Linked DNA regions of Homo sapiens. The protein of the gene in region 2 purifies or fractionates together with the protein of the main gene of each other region. This does not show direct contact. Each region holds a gene or a part of one and is shown on either strand. Other genes may lie near its edges.

Region 1 (7,537 bases), on a different chromosome or scaffold from region 2:
GGGCTTCATAATCCTAGTTGTTTTCCTGTATACTTCTTCCCTCTCATGAAAATTATTAACCCTATTTTTCATGTTTTCTAGACCACATTTTTATTGTAAACACAGACAACTTTATAGGAAAAAGGAATCTAGTTAAATGTGGTTAAGGTTGATTTAAATTCTCTTTTGAGTTTTCTTTGAACTTTGTATTTACAACTATATGTTTAATAGCAAGACCAAAATGTTTAAATAGTGTGCTGCCTCGAGGAATTTACATTTTTAATACTGTACACATTTCACTTTATTAATACTTAGCCTGTTTATCTACATACCTGAAAAACAATGTTGCTACCTACCATTCAGATGAGATTACACACAAAAACCTCAAGGGTCCAATTTAGACAAAACACTAAAACACGTGGACTCAATTTCATCTATTAAAAACTTGTTTTGGCTGAGCATGCTGGTTCACACTTGTAATTCCAGAACTTTGGGAGGCTGAGGCTGGAGGATCACTTGAGGTCAGGAGTTCAAGACCAGCCTTTCCAACATGGCAAAGCCCCATCTCTACTAAAAATACAAAAATTAGCCAGGCGTGGTGGTATGAGCCTGTAGTCACAACTACTCTGGAGGCTGATGTGGGAAGCTGAGGTAGGAGGATCACTTGAGCCCAGGAGTTTGAGGCTGCAGTGAGCTATGATTGCACCACTGCACTCCAGCCTGGGCAACAGAGTAAAACCCTGTCTCAAAACAATAAAACAAAACAAAAAACCTATTTTGAATGGCTATTAAACTTGTTAAATTTGAAATGACTGCTTGATCATCACAATTTCTATATTTTCCTTAATATTGTTAGAACTGGGTATAGTGTATGCAGCATAATTTGAATCATTTTGTGTGTGTGTGGCTGGGGGGACCTCTCAGCAGTCTACATTATAAACTACGTTCTTTTCTACCCAAGAATGCTAACTTTTGGTATAACATAAACGTAAGAGCCTGTCATTCTTTTTGTAGTTCCTGTAACCAGCACAGTGCCTGATTCATGAATTAAAGGTAAAAAAAAATGAACAAGAATTTATAAACTTTAATTTTAAATTTATTGCTAACTAGCATATATCTTATTAAGTACTTGCAGTATTCCAGGCACTGCTAAGTGCATGACTGCATACAGTAATGCATTTAATTCTCCCAGTAATTTCATCTCCATTTTACAAATGAGGAAACTAGATTCTAAAAGCTTAATTACCGTAGTACATATCACACAGTTGACATTTGAACACCAGGTATGAATCCAAAGCTCATGCTCTTTCTATGCCTAGGTTTAAATCCTGGCTCCGCTAATTTTGTGACCTTGGGCAAGTTACTTAACATTTTCTCATCTGTTAAAATGTAGATAATAACCACTCCTAACCTGTAGGATGGTTGAAATAAATGAATTAGTAAAGCTCTTTCAACAGTCTGGCACATAAGAAGTGCTGAGCAAGTGTTAACTTCTGTTGTTACATCACATCACACTACCTTCCCATAACTAGTATATTGCAGCATTGCTTATATAGTTACATAGGATTATACAGGCAGAAACTTATTATCCATCTTTAAGGAAAAGTTAAGAATATTTGCCCTAAAGCATACTGTGACTTATGAAATAAGGAACAATTGGGGGTTAGGTTATTGGGCAAATTGTTCTCTCATTAAAATATGGTTTCTTTAACTGGATATAGAAATAAGTTGGGGACTGCTTTTTTTGGATCTCTAATCCAAAAATCCAAAACACTCCAAAATTTGAAACTTTATTGAGGGCCAACATGATGCCACAAGTGGAAAATTCCACATCTGGTATAATGTACAAAAACTTTTCCATGCACAAAATTATTTAAAATATTGTGTAAAATATTTGTGCTATCTGTATAAGATGTATATGAAACACAAATGAATTTTGACTTGGGTCCCATCCCCAAGATATCTCATTATGTATATGCAAATATCCCCAAATCTGAAAAAAAAAAAAAAAAAAAAAAAAAAAAAAAATCCAAAACCTGAAACATTTCTGGTCCCAAGCATTTTGGATAAGGAATACTCAACTTTTAATTGTTGGGAAGCATCTGTTTCTTTTAGCAATTCTGTGCTGCACAGAAGCCCCCTGGCCCCAGTTTTATGCTTTGTATGATTTGTTTTTCATCCTTCCTATCGTTACTTCTCTGTTATTTAGTCTCAGTTTTAAAACATTACAACTAGTGAGAACCTGCTCATTTCTAAATGTTCAAAAAAGAGGGGGAAATATCATGATCACTTTTCAATAGCATGAAAAACACCAGCTATTTTTAAGCTGCTTAGATGCAACTGAGAAACACTATACAGTTTAATTTTAATTTAATTTTTTTGAGACGGAGTTTCACTCTTGTTGCCCAGGCTGGAACGCAATGGTGTGATCTCAGCTCACTGCAGCCTCCACCTCCTGGGTTCAAGTGATTCTCCTGCCTCAGCCTCCCAAGTAGCTGGGATTACAGGTGGCCACCACCACACCTGGCTAATTTTGTATTTGTAGTAGAGACAGGGTTTCGCCATGTTGGTCAGGCCGGTCTTGACCTCCTGACCTCTGGTGATCTACCTGCCTCTGCCTCTCAAAGTGCTGGGATTAAAGGCACGAGCCACCATGCCTGGTCCATACCACAGATTTTTAGAAAATCTGCTGTGAAAACAAAATCCTGCAGTGTATATCTAGCATAGCCAAGGTAAAGTATTTCTGAGAATGCCAAAAAAAAAAATTAATTTGAGCCTGTTCATCAATTTTCTTCTATTCATGGTTCATTGAAAAAAAAAAAAAAAGCTACATGTGGCTAGACATGGTGGCTCACACCTGTAATCCCAGCACTTTGGGAGGCTGAGGCAGGCGAATCACCCGAGGTCAGGAATTTGAGACCAGCCTGGCTGACATGGCGAAACTCCGTCTCTACTAAAAATACAAAAAAAACTAGCTGGGCGTGGTGGCAGGTGCCTGTAATCCCAGCTACTCAGAAGGCTGAGGCAGGAGAATTGCTTAAACCTGGGAGGCGGAGGTTGTGGTGAGCCAAGATCACATCATTGCACTCCAGCCTGGGCAATAAGAGCGAAACTCCATCTCAAAAAAAAAAAAAGGCTACATGCCCAGTAAGTTTTTTGAGAGGGAATTTCACTCTTACATTGCCCAGGCTGGAGTGCAATGGCGCAATCTCAACTCACCACAACCTCTGCCTCCCAGGTTCTGAGGCGATTCTCCTGCCTCAGCCTCCCGAGTAGCTGGGATTACAGGCATGCGCCACCACGCCCGACTAATTTTGTATTTTTAGTAGAGATGGGGGTTTCTCCATGTTGGTCAGGCTGGTCTCGAACTCCCGACCTCAGGTGATCTGCCCACCTCGGCCTCCCAAAGTGTTGGTATTACAGGTGTGAGCCACCGTGCACAGCTGAAAGTTTTCTTTATTGGCAAGTAAGACTAAGAGATTACTTTTTTAAAAAAAATTTTTTTCCCCTTGCAATTTCCTGTTGAAACAGATGCCTTCTTGGCTCAATAATAAAATCCAAGAACATAATGTAAAAAATTTAAGAGCCCATGAAAAGTCAGCTATTCATTTAGTAGCACCAACCCAGAGGAAAAACATGTTTTAAAAGACCTGATAATAGCCGGGCGCAGTGGCTCACGCCTGTAATCCCAGCACTTTGGGAGGCCGAGGCGGGCAGATCACCTGAGGTCGGGAGTTTGAGACCAGCCTGGCTAACACGGCGAAATCCCGTCTCTATTAAAAATACAAAAAAATTAGCCGGGCGTGGTGTCACGTGCCTATAATCCCAGATACTCAGGAGGCTGAAAGAGGAGAATCACTTGAACCCAGAAGGCAGAGGTTGCAGTGAGCCGGGATCACGCCTCTGCACTCCAGCCTGGGCAACAGAGTGAGACTGTCTGAAAAAAAAAAAAAAAAAAAGACTTGATAATAAATGGGATTTTATAGTTTAAAACTTACTAATTTAGTCACTTAGCCATTTTTTTATCTGATAGTAGGCATGATTTTTCTATTTATCTGTAGTTGTGGAATTTAATGTTAGATTCAGGCTGGGTTGCAGTAAAATATCTCGCATATGTGCTAAAGAATGCTTCTAATTGCATTAATTTATATTAACTTTCTCAACAATCATAATTTTCCTTCTATTAAATAAAGTGACTTAATATTCAAATTTTTATTTTAGACCTTACTAGAAAAATGAAACCTGATGAAACTCCTATGTTTGACCCAAGTCTACTCAAAGAAGTGGACTGGAGTCAGAATACAGCTACATTTTCTCCAGCCATTTCCCCAACACATCCTGGAGAAGGCTTGGTTTTGAGGCCTCTTTGTACTGCTGACTTAAATAGAGGTAATGTACAAAATCCTGTGTAAAATTAGAGTTAGCCTTCCATTTTTCTCTAAACATTATGATGCAGATAATTTTTTTTAAATATTTGACTTTTGGACTATTTTTTGTATAATACTTAGTTTTTAAAGTGATGGACACTCAATACCAATGAGTGTGTGTCATGGCTAAGACCAAATATTACTGTGAAATATTTAAAATGACTTAAATACAACATCACTCCTTCCTAATTAAGCCAAAAAGATTTCTCATAAACAAAAATTAAATTATCATGTATGATGACACATAAGGAGGGATCTTAAGAAGCTGGTTGGGGAATGAAGGTGGAAATAATTTTCCTTGGATAAATTGAAAGGGTTTTTATACAGTTATTTCTTTTTTAACATCTAAATTCTCCAAGTTAACTTCCTTAAACTTTGGTAATTAAAAGTCAACTTTGTCCTTTTCACAATTATCTCTTTGCTAGACAGCCTGAAGGGCCTAATTTTGGCCTAATTATTGAGTGTAGGAAAGTTAAGATTTTCAAAATTCCAGGTGCACTGTTCACATCAATTTCCGGTAACACTAATGAAATTCACTAGAAATTACAATTTTAAAGAGTGTAATCTCAACAGTGTTACTTATACTTTAATTTACGAATATTGTATTTAGCCATGTTGCACCTTTAAGTAAAACCAAATCACATATTTGGGAAAATCTGGCACCCTTTGCATTGAACTTAATGTAAAATATAATACATTGAAGAATGTATGTTCTGGGTCTATAAATACTGGATATTAAGGTCAGCACTATTTAAAACATCTTATGCAGGCAGAAGCACTGGTAAAACCTGTTATTTTTGTTATATGTAGTGATTATAGAAGAATAGGGTTCACTTTATTCTAATAATTAAAAGATTATAGAAAGTTCTGAAAAAATAATTGCCTGTAAGCCCACCTGCTTAATATATTGCTTATTTTCATACTGTCTTCCTTTTGCTATTCTCGTAATTTGAAATCTGTTTTTCAAAACTAGGTTTTTTTAAGGTATTGGGTCAGCTAACAGAGACTGGAGTTGTCAGCCCTGAACAATTTATGAGTAAGTACTATAACCTCTTTTTCCTGAAATAAAGGGAAACATGATTTCATTTTTGTTTAGAGCTGTTCAGTGCCCACTTCTGTTTTTGTTCAAATAGCTGGAAATTATTCAAAGAACAAATTAGCTGTTTTATACAAATGTTTAATGTGGCTGAGTTGTTCTAGAATCCAAATGTACCAGTAACTTTGTTTTTGCAAACTATCTGACTACTTTATTAGATAATTATTGTACCATAGGACCTAGGTGTTAGCTCTAGAGGTTTTTCGTTTTTTTATTGTAGTATTTCCCTTACTGTGGTTATTTACAGAAATTTCATTACCAAATCAAAAAAGCAAGACTATACGCTTTAAATTTATTTTGGGGTTTATTTGTATTGAAGTTTAAGGTTAGCAGGCATCTTAAGAGTTAGTCCACCCGTCCCCTGCCCCTCTTCTTTTAGACATAGGAGAAAATAGGAATTTAGAGAGATCCAAAGACTTGCCCAAGATCACAGGTAGTTATTGCTACGGTGAGGAATAAAACCTTAATTCTGTCCAGTGCTCTACCACTGCTTTTTCCTGTTATAAAGGAAATGAAGTATTATTATCATTACTAAATATTTAGTAATATTTAATAGCTGAGGAATTACAATTCTTCATTTCCTTATAATAGGGAATTTTGTATTGAATTCTATTTGACCCTCCTGAGAATGAGGACCATCATTCTGATTCTCATTGTTTATTTTCATTCACTGAATTTCTTTTTCCCATTTTAGATCTCTATCTGGAATGAGACCATAGAAATTAACAATATGAGAGACTATTAGCCTCAATTTTTATTCCTGAATTTTTCTTTGCATGCACATGAATTAGATGAGAAACCATGTTATTTCAGCAATAGTACTGAAAATCCATTTGAGGGGAAGTATCTTTGCACCTATTTGCTATGTGACTTGGAAAAGTTACTTGGAAACAGATATGTTTTTACTTCCTTGCAAGGTGCTCTCAAAGCAAACAAGAGCAAGTCATGTTATCACAAAACACTTTCCATCACAAAGGGAAAATTAAAATATATTTTGTAAAAATATTTTGAAAGCAAAAGACTAAAAATTCTAGAATTGAGCCATGTAAACATGCTCTTGTTAAAATGTGCAAAGGTTATATTTGAATATCTATTGAGTATAAAAGTTAAAGAGATCTATTTAAAGTAAATGAAGAAATTGAAGTTTTCATTAGTCATGGAAGTGGCAACATCAGCCATTTACTTGTATTTTAAGTGTTGTTCATCTAAAATAGCTATATTAGTCTTTATTTTGCTAGCAGATATTTTGAATGTGTAGGTTATATTCCAATTGATACTAATTGCTGATATTTCAACTACTTGGTAATATTTTCTTTAGAAATGGAAGGTAAATTACTATGGTAAAACAGCTTTAAACATTTAGTAATTAAGTCAGCTAATCCTAATATTTTTCTGGCTCCCCATAAAATTGAATGTCTACTATGTAACACTTTGTTATCCAATTTCCACAGAATCTTTTGAGCATATGAAGAAATCTGGGGATTATTATGTTACAGTTGTAGAAGATGTGACTCTAGGACAGATTGTTGCTACGGCAACTCTGATTATAGAACATAAATTCATCCATTCCTGTGCTAAGGTATGTGCTGCTTATAAATAAAATGGACAGCTGTTTTCTAGCACAACTGACTTTGAGTTTCCATTAGACAAATCTGTTTTCTCATTGATTTTCAGTGCCTCTTAGAAATCCCTTTTCCCAGTGTGTTCTGAGAGCTTTAAGAAAGAAAATGTATAACAGTATGAATTGTATGCTAAAATTGTTCTGTAAGGTGGATCAATTTGGTATAGGCATAGAGAAACCAAACAACTTAGCAGTAATGCACAAAATCCCTAATGTTACTCTTTTAAAAAAAACAACTCTGAATATACCACGTTAGCATAAATTTGTTTCCACATGGTAAAGGGTTCAGATTATTCCGTTCTAATTATGATACATCTAATGCATGTAGTGCCCTTTCATCCCTCAATAACTCACATAAAATAGTAAATAAAAAAAGAGGGAGAGAAAACCTTAATTCAATGAGAATAAGGTAGG
Region 2 (2,581 bases):
CCTGCCCATAGCATGGAGGGAACTTCCACTGAGCCTCCTCTGTCCACTTCTGGCGCCTCTCACTAAGCCCTTTGCTCAGCCTCCCACAGGAGGAAAAGTTTATTGGGCGGGTCAGTGTCGACCTTTCTGCACCTGTCTGCTGGTGGGCTGGTACTGTGGCTGTGCTTGTGGGTATAGCTCTCCTTTTCTGCCCAGTCTTCCTGCTCCCTGTCCCCACAGAGAGCACCCTCAAGGCCAGCCCACTGCACATCCTCTGGCTCCAGCTCCTTGCCCGTGTGCCTGACTGGGAAAGGGCATTCCAGGGCCTTCCTGCAGATCTAGCCACACCTGGCTTTCCTGGCAGAACACCTGGGTGTGCAGCATGGGTTTTGTGTTCAGGGAATTACTCTTCGGATTTGACCTGGTAGTGTGGATCATGTGGATTATCAACATTTACGAAAGTATATTTACGAGAATATGGTGAGCAATAGCACCATCAATGAAAAGGCATTGAGAAGACATTTTTTTTTAAAACAAAGTTCACTTTATTACATTAATTTTACACACTAAAATAATATGAAATGCAGACTTGTTTAAATTCTCTTGCTGATTCTCTTGAAGACAATGTCACCCAATGTCATGGTCTGAAAGCCAGAAAAGAAATTATGAAGTGTTCATCTGATGTTGTATTGTAAAAAACAAAATTAAGCATAAAAAACAAAATTAAGCTTAAAAAACAGCACCAAATATGTTGGCATATGAAACAATTCAAAAATTCGTCTGGTTTCCTGTAGGACCGGAGGAAAGGTTGGCAATGTTTTCCAAAATCCTATGCCAAGTCTTTGTCACTTCTCCTCCTCACCTGGAAAGTCCTCCTGCCTTTGACTGAATTCTTTTCTACATCAATGACTGTTATAGCAAGACCATCCAAACCAGCCCAATCTAATTTCTCAAAATTTCATTGAGTACCTACTATGCACCAAATACATGTTGAGCACCAAGGATACATGTACATGGACACAACTAGGCACACAGCCTGGAAGGCAGTGGGTAGTGCATAATTGTCCTCCTATAGCTGTGAAGCATATAAAAACAGTGGATGCATCAGCTTTTGAGTTTTTAAGGATGTTTCCTCCACCCCTGCCAGTTCTCTTGAATAAGACTGCTGGAATGACATACCATGTCATCAGGGTGAAAAGGAGCCCCTCAGTTTCAGCAGCAATGCAATAGTTGCTGCTTGATGGGTTTGAGCCCTGGATTTAACATTTATTAGCTGATGACTTGGACAGGTCAACCTGTCTATTGAATCCCTCATCCAGCCTCCCTCGAAGGAGACAGGAGGATTAGGTGAGATGGAACCTATCAAAGGGCGTTGGCCAGGACTTACTGCAGGATAGCTCATCTCCTGCTCCCCTGCTCTCCTGGGAATGTGCTGGGGCGGAGGTGGAAACTGCACATTGGGTGGTTGATGCTCACACTCTCTCTAGTTTAAGAATTTTTCCATTTGAATAGAGTGATGACAGCGCCCTGAGGCAGTGTTCTGTTGTCTGTGACTCCCTAAAGCATATTCTGGGGGCAAAGAAGAGTCAGGGGGACATACCTGCAGGAGAAACACTGCACCATTCACCCCCAAATAGGGTACAGGATGTGGCTGGCAGCCAGGCACCAAGGCTGACTGCATAACTGGACTGTGCCAGGCTTGTAAGCTGCCATAATATGACCATGAATGGGATTCTCTTTATAAACGCTAAATGGGCAAAGGCATTTATGAAGCACCCTGGGCATGCAGGGCAGGTGGAGGCCTCTGTGGCTGGTTGGTTGCGCTGAGCAGAAAGGATTAGTGATAATGTGTGTAAACTGCCTGGGACATGATGGATCCTCAGTAAGTGCTGGCAGATACTGACCACAGGAAAGAAGTTTGGGGGTTGGAGGGTGGAGGGGTGGCATTAGGGTATGTGAGCCGCTCCCCATGCTTCACCTCCCCTCTCCCCTCAAGCACTGGGAGCCACACGCTCAGAGCACCACCAACTTACATTGGTGATTATGTCGCCGTTGAGTTCGGTCACAGACTTGATGTTTTTGAAAGTTGTCACCAGTTTATTGTCACCTTCCAACTGAACCACTGTCTGCAGGGAACAGAGAGGTGACCTGTGAGGAAGGGGTGGTGGGGGGCAAGAGCCTTGCTAATGAAGTTGCTTCCTTTGCACAGGTCTCAGCTCATAACAACCAAAATGCTCTGGTTCCTATGATCCCAAGCCTCTAGTTCTCTGGCTCCAAATAGAAGTGAGGTGCATTTAAGAACTAAATAAAATGTCACGACTTCTTTTGTCAGAACTTTAATTCATGGCATGTGATCTAGAAATGAGCATGGAACACCTAAGTGGCCCCAAATACAAATGCTAAAATCAAATCAAGTAAAATCTCAATTCTCCCAAGCTAATGGAGGGAGGTAGTGGCAAAATTCAAATATTGACCAGTAGAGAATACATATTTTGCTTTGGTATGTATTCTTCTTTTTTTTTTTTTTTTAATTGAGATGAGGTCTTGCTATGTTGCCCAGGCTGGTCTTGAACTCCTAGGCTCAAACAGTCCTTTCACTTCA

What was found.
Region 1: the proteins of FABP1 (region 2) and GNPNAT1 purify together in Homo sapiens (affinity purification with mass spectrometry; 2 studies listed by BioGRID and IntAct, with this or other methods). This does not show direct contact.

What each region holds. Positions count from the first base shown.
Region 1 is NC_000014.9:52,781,328-52,788,864, reverse strand, and holds part of GNPNAT1 (glucosamine 6-phosphate N-acetyltransferase), read left to right. Parts: intron 1-993; exon of another isoform or gene 994-1,032; intron 1,033-4,200; 5' UTR 4,201-4,214; coding exon 4,215-4,368; intron 4,369-5,379; coding exon 5,380-5,442; intron 5,443-6,953; coding exon 6,954-7,081; intron 7,082-7,537.
Region 2 is NC_000002.12:88,122,482-88,125,062, forward strand, and holds the end of FABP1 (fatty acid-binding protein, liver), read right to left. Parts: intron 2,106-2,581; coding exon 2,013-2,105; intron 624-2,012; coding exon 573-623; 3' UTR 501-572; downstream 1-500.